Regions from separate parts of the Homo sapiens genome. Here region 2 is linked to region 1. A link means that fine-mapping ties the variant in region 1 to the expression of a gene that starts in the linked region. Tissue or cell type: whole blood. Region 1 holds a variant in brackets; the other region holds the start of a gene. Each region is shown on its reference strand, or each on the opposite one.

Region 1 (2,908 bases):
GCAAATATTCAATTTTAGTAGATAAGTCAAACAGTTTTCTAAAGCAACTGTACCAATTTGCATGCCATCAACAATGTATGAAAGTTACAGTAGTTCCACACCTTCACCAGTATGTAGTATTATCAATCTTATTTTTAGCTATTCTGAGGTATAGTGGCATCTAATTGCTGTTTTAATAACATGTAATATAAAAGACATAAGACAGAAGTTAACATACCAATTCTCCAAAAAACATGTTTCAATTTCTAACAGCCCTCATGGGCAAAAGTTTTTTATTAAATACACGATGCTTATGTAAAAAAAAAGACAAATTTTCTCTTACATTTTGTGTCATTGAAAAAAAGGAGAGTCTAAATTACTGGATTTTTATCTACTATTCTCTGTAAGAACTTAATGATAATGAATACCCGCATGATGCCTGATCCCCCGGATCTCACAGTCAGGAAAGAGATGCAGTCAACGAACAGGCGTTAACAAGGCAGTCTGATAAGCACTTATGGACGCATATAGGGTGGCACTGATCCTGTCTCAGGAGGTCTGGAAATTGAGTCTAAGTTTAGACATAAAGAAAAAGTAAGCTCCAGATGGGTGCACAAGTGAGGATAAGGTAATTAACGACAAAGGGAACAGCTTATAAAAAGGTCTAAGCGCATGGCTGAAGCCCAAAGTGAATGACAGTAAGAAGTATCTGAAGATAAGACTAGAGAGCTTGCCAGGGGCTGGATTACTGGGGCATCTGTAAGCCACATAAGGAATATGAACTTTATTATTCGGGGTGCTACAAGAAGATTTCTTGAAAACAAGTTATGTGACCAGATTTGCAATTTACAAAGAGTTTTCTGGCTACAATATGTAGAATACATTGCTGTGACAAGCAGATAGACCCAGAAGTGGGGGTGCTAATTTGGAGGCTGCGGCAACAATGTGGGAGAGACATGATAGGGTCATTTAGGGATATCTATTAGTAGAGTGGCAGTATGAATGGGATCTTAGGGAGTAGGTCCAAGATTAAGGGATGACTTCAAGATAAAATCAACAGAACGTAATGATGGAGTCAAAATTTGATGGAAAAAGAATAAGAAGCCAAGAATGACCCACAAGGGATTTCAAAAAGATGGCAGCCTGTCATCCCCTCCTCCCCCACCATCATGACCACCAATTCCCTGAGACACTAACATAAATGAAATAAATAAGATGGAATGTGAATATATCTCAAGTGCAGCTGAGGTCAAAAGTTTTAGAAAACTGGCATGGGGGGTTGGCATGCACAGTGGGAGAGACTCTGTGAGGTTGCTTAGGCTCATGGGCACAGGCACCTAACTTATCCATTATTTCTGCAACCACATCATGCTGGATGTTGCTAGATCCCTCAGTGCCACAGCCTAGCATAAAAAATGGCCCAGTGAGTGACAGAATTGTAGGTGCCTTTAAGTAGGTGATGACATATGTTTATCACAGCACAATTCACAATTGCAAAACATGAAATCAACCTAAGTGCCCATAAATCAAAGAGTGGATAAAGAAAATGTGGTATATATGCCATGGAATACTCTTCAGCCA[CA/C]AAAAAAAAGAATAAAATAATGTGTTTTGCAGCAACCTGAATGGAACTGGAGGCATTATTTTGTTTGTTTGTTTGTTTGTTTTTTCTTTTAAGTTCTGGGATACATGTGCAGAATGTGCAGGTTTGTTACACAGGTATACATGTGCCATGGTGGTTTGTTGCACCTATCAACCCATCATCTAGGTTCTAAGCCCCACATGCATTAGGTATTTGTTCTAATGCTCTCCCTCCCCTTGCCCCCCACTCCCCAACAGGCTCCAGTGTATGTTGTTCCCCTCCCTGTGTCCATGTGTTCACATTGTTCAACTCCCACTTATGAGTGAGAACATGTGGTATTTGGTCTTCTATTCCTGTGTAGTTTGCTGAGGATGATGGCTTCCAGCTTCACCCATGTCCTTGCAAAGGACATAATCTCATTCTTTTGTATGGCTGCATAGTATTCCATGGTGTACATATGCCACATTTTCTCTATCCAGTCTATCATTGACGGGAATTTGGGTTGGTTCCAAGTCTTTGCTATTGTAAATAGTGTTGCAATAAACATACGTATGCATGTGTCTTTATAGTAGAATGATTTATAATCCTTTGGGTATATACCCAGTAATGGGATTGCTGGGTCAAATGGTATTTCCTTGGTTCTAGATCCTTGAGGAATCACCACAATGTCTTCCATAATGGTTGAACTAATTTACACTCCCACCAACAATGTAAAAGCGTTCCTATTTCTCTACAGCCTTGCCAGCATCTATTGTTTCCTGACTTTTTAATAATTGCCATGCTAACTGGCATGAGACGGTATCTCATTGTGGTTTTGACTTGCATTTTTCTAATGATCAGTGATGATGAGCTTTTATTCATATATTTGTTGGCTGTGTAAATGTCTTCATTTGATAAGTGTCCATTCATATCCTTCGCCCACTTTTTGAGGGGGTTGTTTGTCTCTTATTGTAAATTTAAGTTCCTTGTAGATTCTAGATATTAGACCTTTGTCAGACAGGTAGATTGCAAAAATTTCTCCCATTCTGTAGGTTGCCTGTTCACTCTGATGATAGTTTCTTTTGCTGTGCAGAAGCTCTTTAGTTTAATTAGATCCCATTTGTCAATTTTTGCTTTTGTTGCAATTGCTTTTCGTGTTTTATCATGAAGTCTTTGCCCATGTCTATGTCCTGAATGGTATTGCCTAGGTTTTCTTCTAGGGTTTTGATGGTTTTGGGTTTTACACTTAAGTCTTTGATCCATCTTGAGTTAATTTTTATAAGGTATATGGAAGGGGTCCAGTTTCTGTTTTCTGCATATGGCTAGCCAGTTTTCCTAAGACCATTTATTAAATAGGGAATCCTTTCCCTA
Region 2 (2,908 bases), not on the chromosome of region 1:
AGTGGCCACGGTGGCCTGGCCCTGCCCTTCCTCTGGCCACCCCAGCCCTCTTACCTTCCCGTACTCCAGGGAATAGGAGGCCCACAGAGTGGGGCCTGGCAGCTTCCCCCGCTTTCGGATGAGCACGCAGCCCAGTCCAAGCTCCTGGGCCAGGGAGGGGCCAAAGAGGAAGCCTCGGGAGTCTAGGCCTGTCAGGGTAAGTGACAGGAGTGACTCGGCAGCATGGGAATCCCCAGGGGCCAGGGTTGGCCGGTGGCAAGGGGTACCTGGTTGGCTCCCAGCTGAAAGGCCAGTGACATGCACCATTTAAGGAATGTTACCCATCACCTACCCGGAGCTGCTTCCAGGTCAGAGTGCAGACCTGGGTCTGTCTTTTAAGGGACCACTTCTTAGCTGTGTGTTCCTAGGGGAGTCACCACCCCTCTCTCTGAGCTGAGCAGCCCATCTGTAACTGGGCTGGTAGAAACCTGACAGGCCTCAGCTTACTCTCAAAGGCAGCTCTGCACCAGGGCTTCTGTCTAAAAAGGGAGTCTCTCGAGGTGGCCTGAGCTGTGATGGTTGGGGGACGCTCAGGGAAACCCTGCCCCGGCCTGGCAGGAGGTCAGGGAGGGCTTCCTGCAGGAGGTGAGAAGGGAGCTCTGGCAGTGTTGTGGCTCCAGCAAGAGCTGGCGCTTTCCTCAGGGCAGTGTCCAGGGAGTGGGCTGTCACACCCTAGGAGAGGCAAGACGGCCAGGAACACTCTGTTCTCCCTGGGCCACCTCTTGGGCTCTCCCGGAGGCCTCCAGGCCTCCCTTCCCTGGGTGGGCATTCCGTGATCTTCACCAGGGAAGGCCTGGCTCGTGGCAGGCGCTCAATACCAGCTCGCAGAAGGAACAAGAAGCAAGGCAGCTGGGCCCTGTGGATTCAGCTTGGGCACTCCAGGGAGACCAACTGACCCGGCAACTCGGTCACGCCTGTCCTGGGCTGGGGACCCGGAACCTGCGGGAAGGACGCCTGCACAGCGCGGCGGCCTCGGGGGCTCAATCTCACAACCCTTCCCGGGCGACCCAAGCACGGCGCCCGTCCCGGCGCCCCCTGAAGCACCCCAAAGGCCCTCCCCCAAGCAGACGCGCAGAGCCCACGTGCTGCCCTCGGCGCGCGCAGAGGCGGAAGCGCCCTAGATGCGGCCACTGGGCACTCGCCTGCGATGTAGTCGATGCGGCCCCCGTGGGTCGCCTTCAGGTGTCGCGCCAGGAGGCCGATGGCGGCGCGGAAGGAGGCGGGGTCCTTCAGGACGGGCGAGATGTCCCTGGACCCAAGGACAGGCCTGGTGACGCCGGGGCCGAAGGAGGGCAGGGCCCCGGGGGCGAAAGACGAGGGTTCCCGCCCCGCCCGCCCGGAGGTCGCGGGCCACGCGCTCCCATCCGTAGGCCCGCAGGTCGGGGCGCCACGAGGGCGGCCTGTGCGTGCACCTGAATACCACGCCTGGGGTGGGGAAGTCGGGGAAGCTGCGGATCCGCTGCTCAACCAGCTGCAGCTCGGAGTCGGCCATGGCCGCGTGCGAAGAGCCAGCGGCAGCCCGAGCGCGCCTGCGCGGGGACGGGCGGGACCGCCACGAGGGGTGGGGCATCCCCGGAGGGCGGAGCGTGGGTGAGGGGCGGGGCATCCGTCGCCGGAAGCCTGTACCGTATTTCATGGACTCCTAGGCGCCATCGATTTTAAGACGCGCTCGCATTCCACGCACCACTGAGCAGAACGTTCGAACCGGACAAAAGTGCGAGTCAAGGCGCCCTTCCTTGTCTCGGGCTACGCTTCTGACTGCAGCCAGGCAGCTGTGGGCCGGGGCCTTGGCGGCTGGAGGAGGGGCGTGAGCTGGTCTCGCCCACGCACCTGGCGCGCGTACGGGCCGCGCCCTTTCTCCTTTATTGGCCGAGATCCCCACGCTGCGCGCGGGAGGCTGGCGCGCGGGGTGGAGAAGGGCGTGAGGAAGCGGTCCAAGTAGCAGGAGGGCGGTGCAGGGCCCGGAGGGAGCAGCCCAGGGCGGAGGCGGCGGGCCTGGGCTGGACCGGCCGGGGGCGCTGGCCTCTCGCGGATGGGCCCTGCCGTTGAGGCGGCTCTTCCCCGCCCGGACCCGGGGGAGGGAGGCCGGAAGGTGTGGCCAGGCCAGGGCGCGCATCCGCGAGGGCAGAAGCCCTTCTGTCCGCCTGCAGAGGCCAGGTGACCCCTTAGCCTTGGGGTGGGGAGCTGTGAACCCCCTGGCCGCCCGAGGACTGGTACCCAGGGGGTTGTGTGAGGCATAACTCCCCCCAAACACAATTTCCTTTCAAGAAAATCCCCAGAGCTAAAATGCCTTGTGCTCTATTCCAAGACTTTTCTTCATTTCGCAACTTTTTTTTGAGAAGGACTCTCGCTCTGTCGCCCAGGATGGAGCACAGTGGCGCCATCTGGGCTCACTGCAAGCTCCACCTCCTGGGTTCCGGCCATTCTCCCGCCTCAGCCTCCCGAGTAGCTGGGACTACAGGAGCCCGCCACCACGCCCTGCTAATTTTTTGTATTTTTAGTAGAGACGCAGTTTCACTGTGTTAGCCAGGATGGTCTCGATCTCCTGACCCCGTGATCTGCCCGCTTCGGCCTCCCAAAGTGCCGGGATTACAGGCGTGAGCCACCGCGCCCGGCCCATCATTTCGCAACTTTTACAATTCAGCTTTGGCCTGGCAGTTACTGCAGAAGGGAAAACCCACTCAGTGGAAGGCAGCCCCCAGGAGCCTTCGGAGGGGGAGGCCGGAGGCTGCATGCGGCTGCTGGGGCCCCGGTTCCAGGGCGGGTGGGGGACCCATCGTCTGATGCCAAGGGGCGTGGTAGGGGCGGCTGCCTCGCAGTGTGCGGTGGTCAGGGCTGGCAAGGCCTGGGGCCTGGGCTCCAGACCCCT

Evidence for each region.
Region 2: it holds the start of APRT, and the variant in region 1 is fine-mapped to the expression of APRT in whole blood (TOPMed, PIP above 0.99).

What each region holds. Positions count from the first base shown.
Region 1 is chr5:130,839,594-130,842,501 of GRCh38, forward strand. The region is part of intron 1 of LOC107986449 (a long non-coding RNA gene); the gene reads right to left. Among named protein-coding and RNA genes, the nearest start is that of HINT1, 320 kb to the right of the region's middle. The variant CA/C (reference allele first, on the strand shown) is at 1,561.
Region 2 is chr16:88,810,369-88,813,276 of GRCh38, forward strand. It overlaps APRT (adenine phosphoribosyltransferase), which reads right to left and starts at 1,560. Exons shown (of 5, transcript NM_000485.3): 1 at 1,452-1,560; 2 at 1,182-1,288; 3 at 55-188. The coding sequence starts at 1,531. RefSeq lists enhancers at 1-429, 1,935-2,619, 2,620-2,908 and silencers at 1,313-1,712, 1,963-2,222.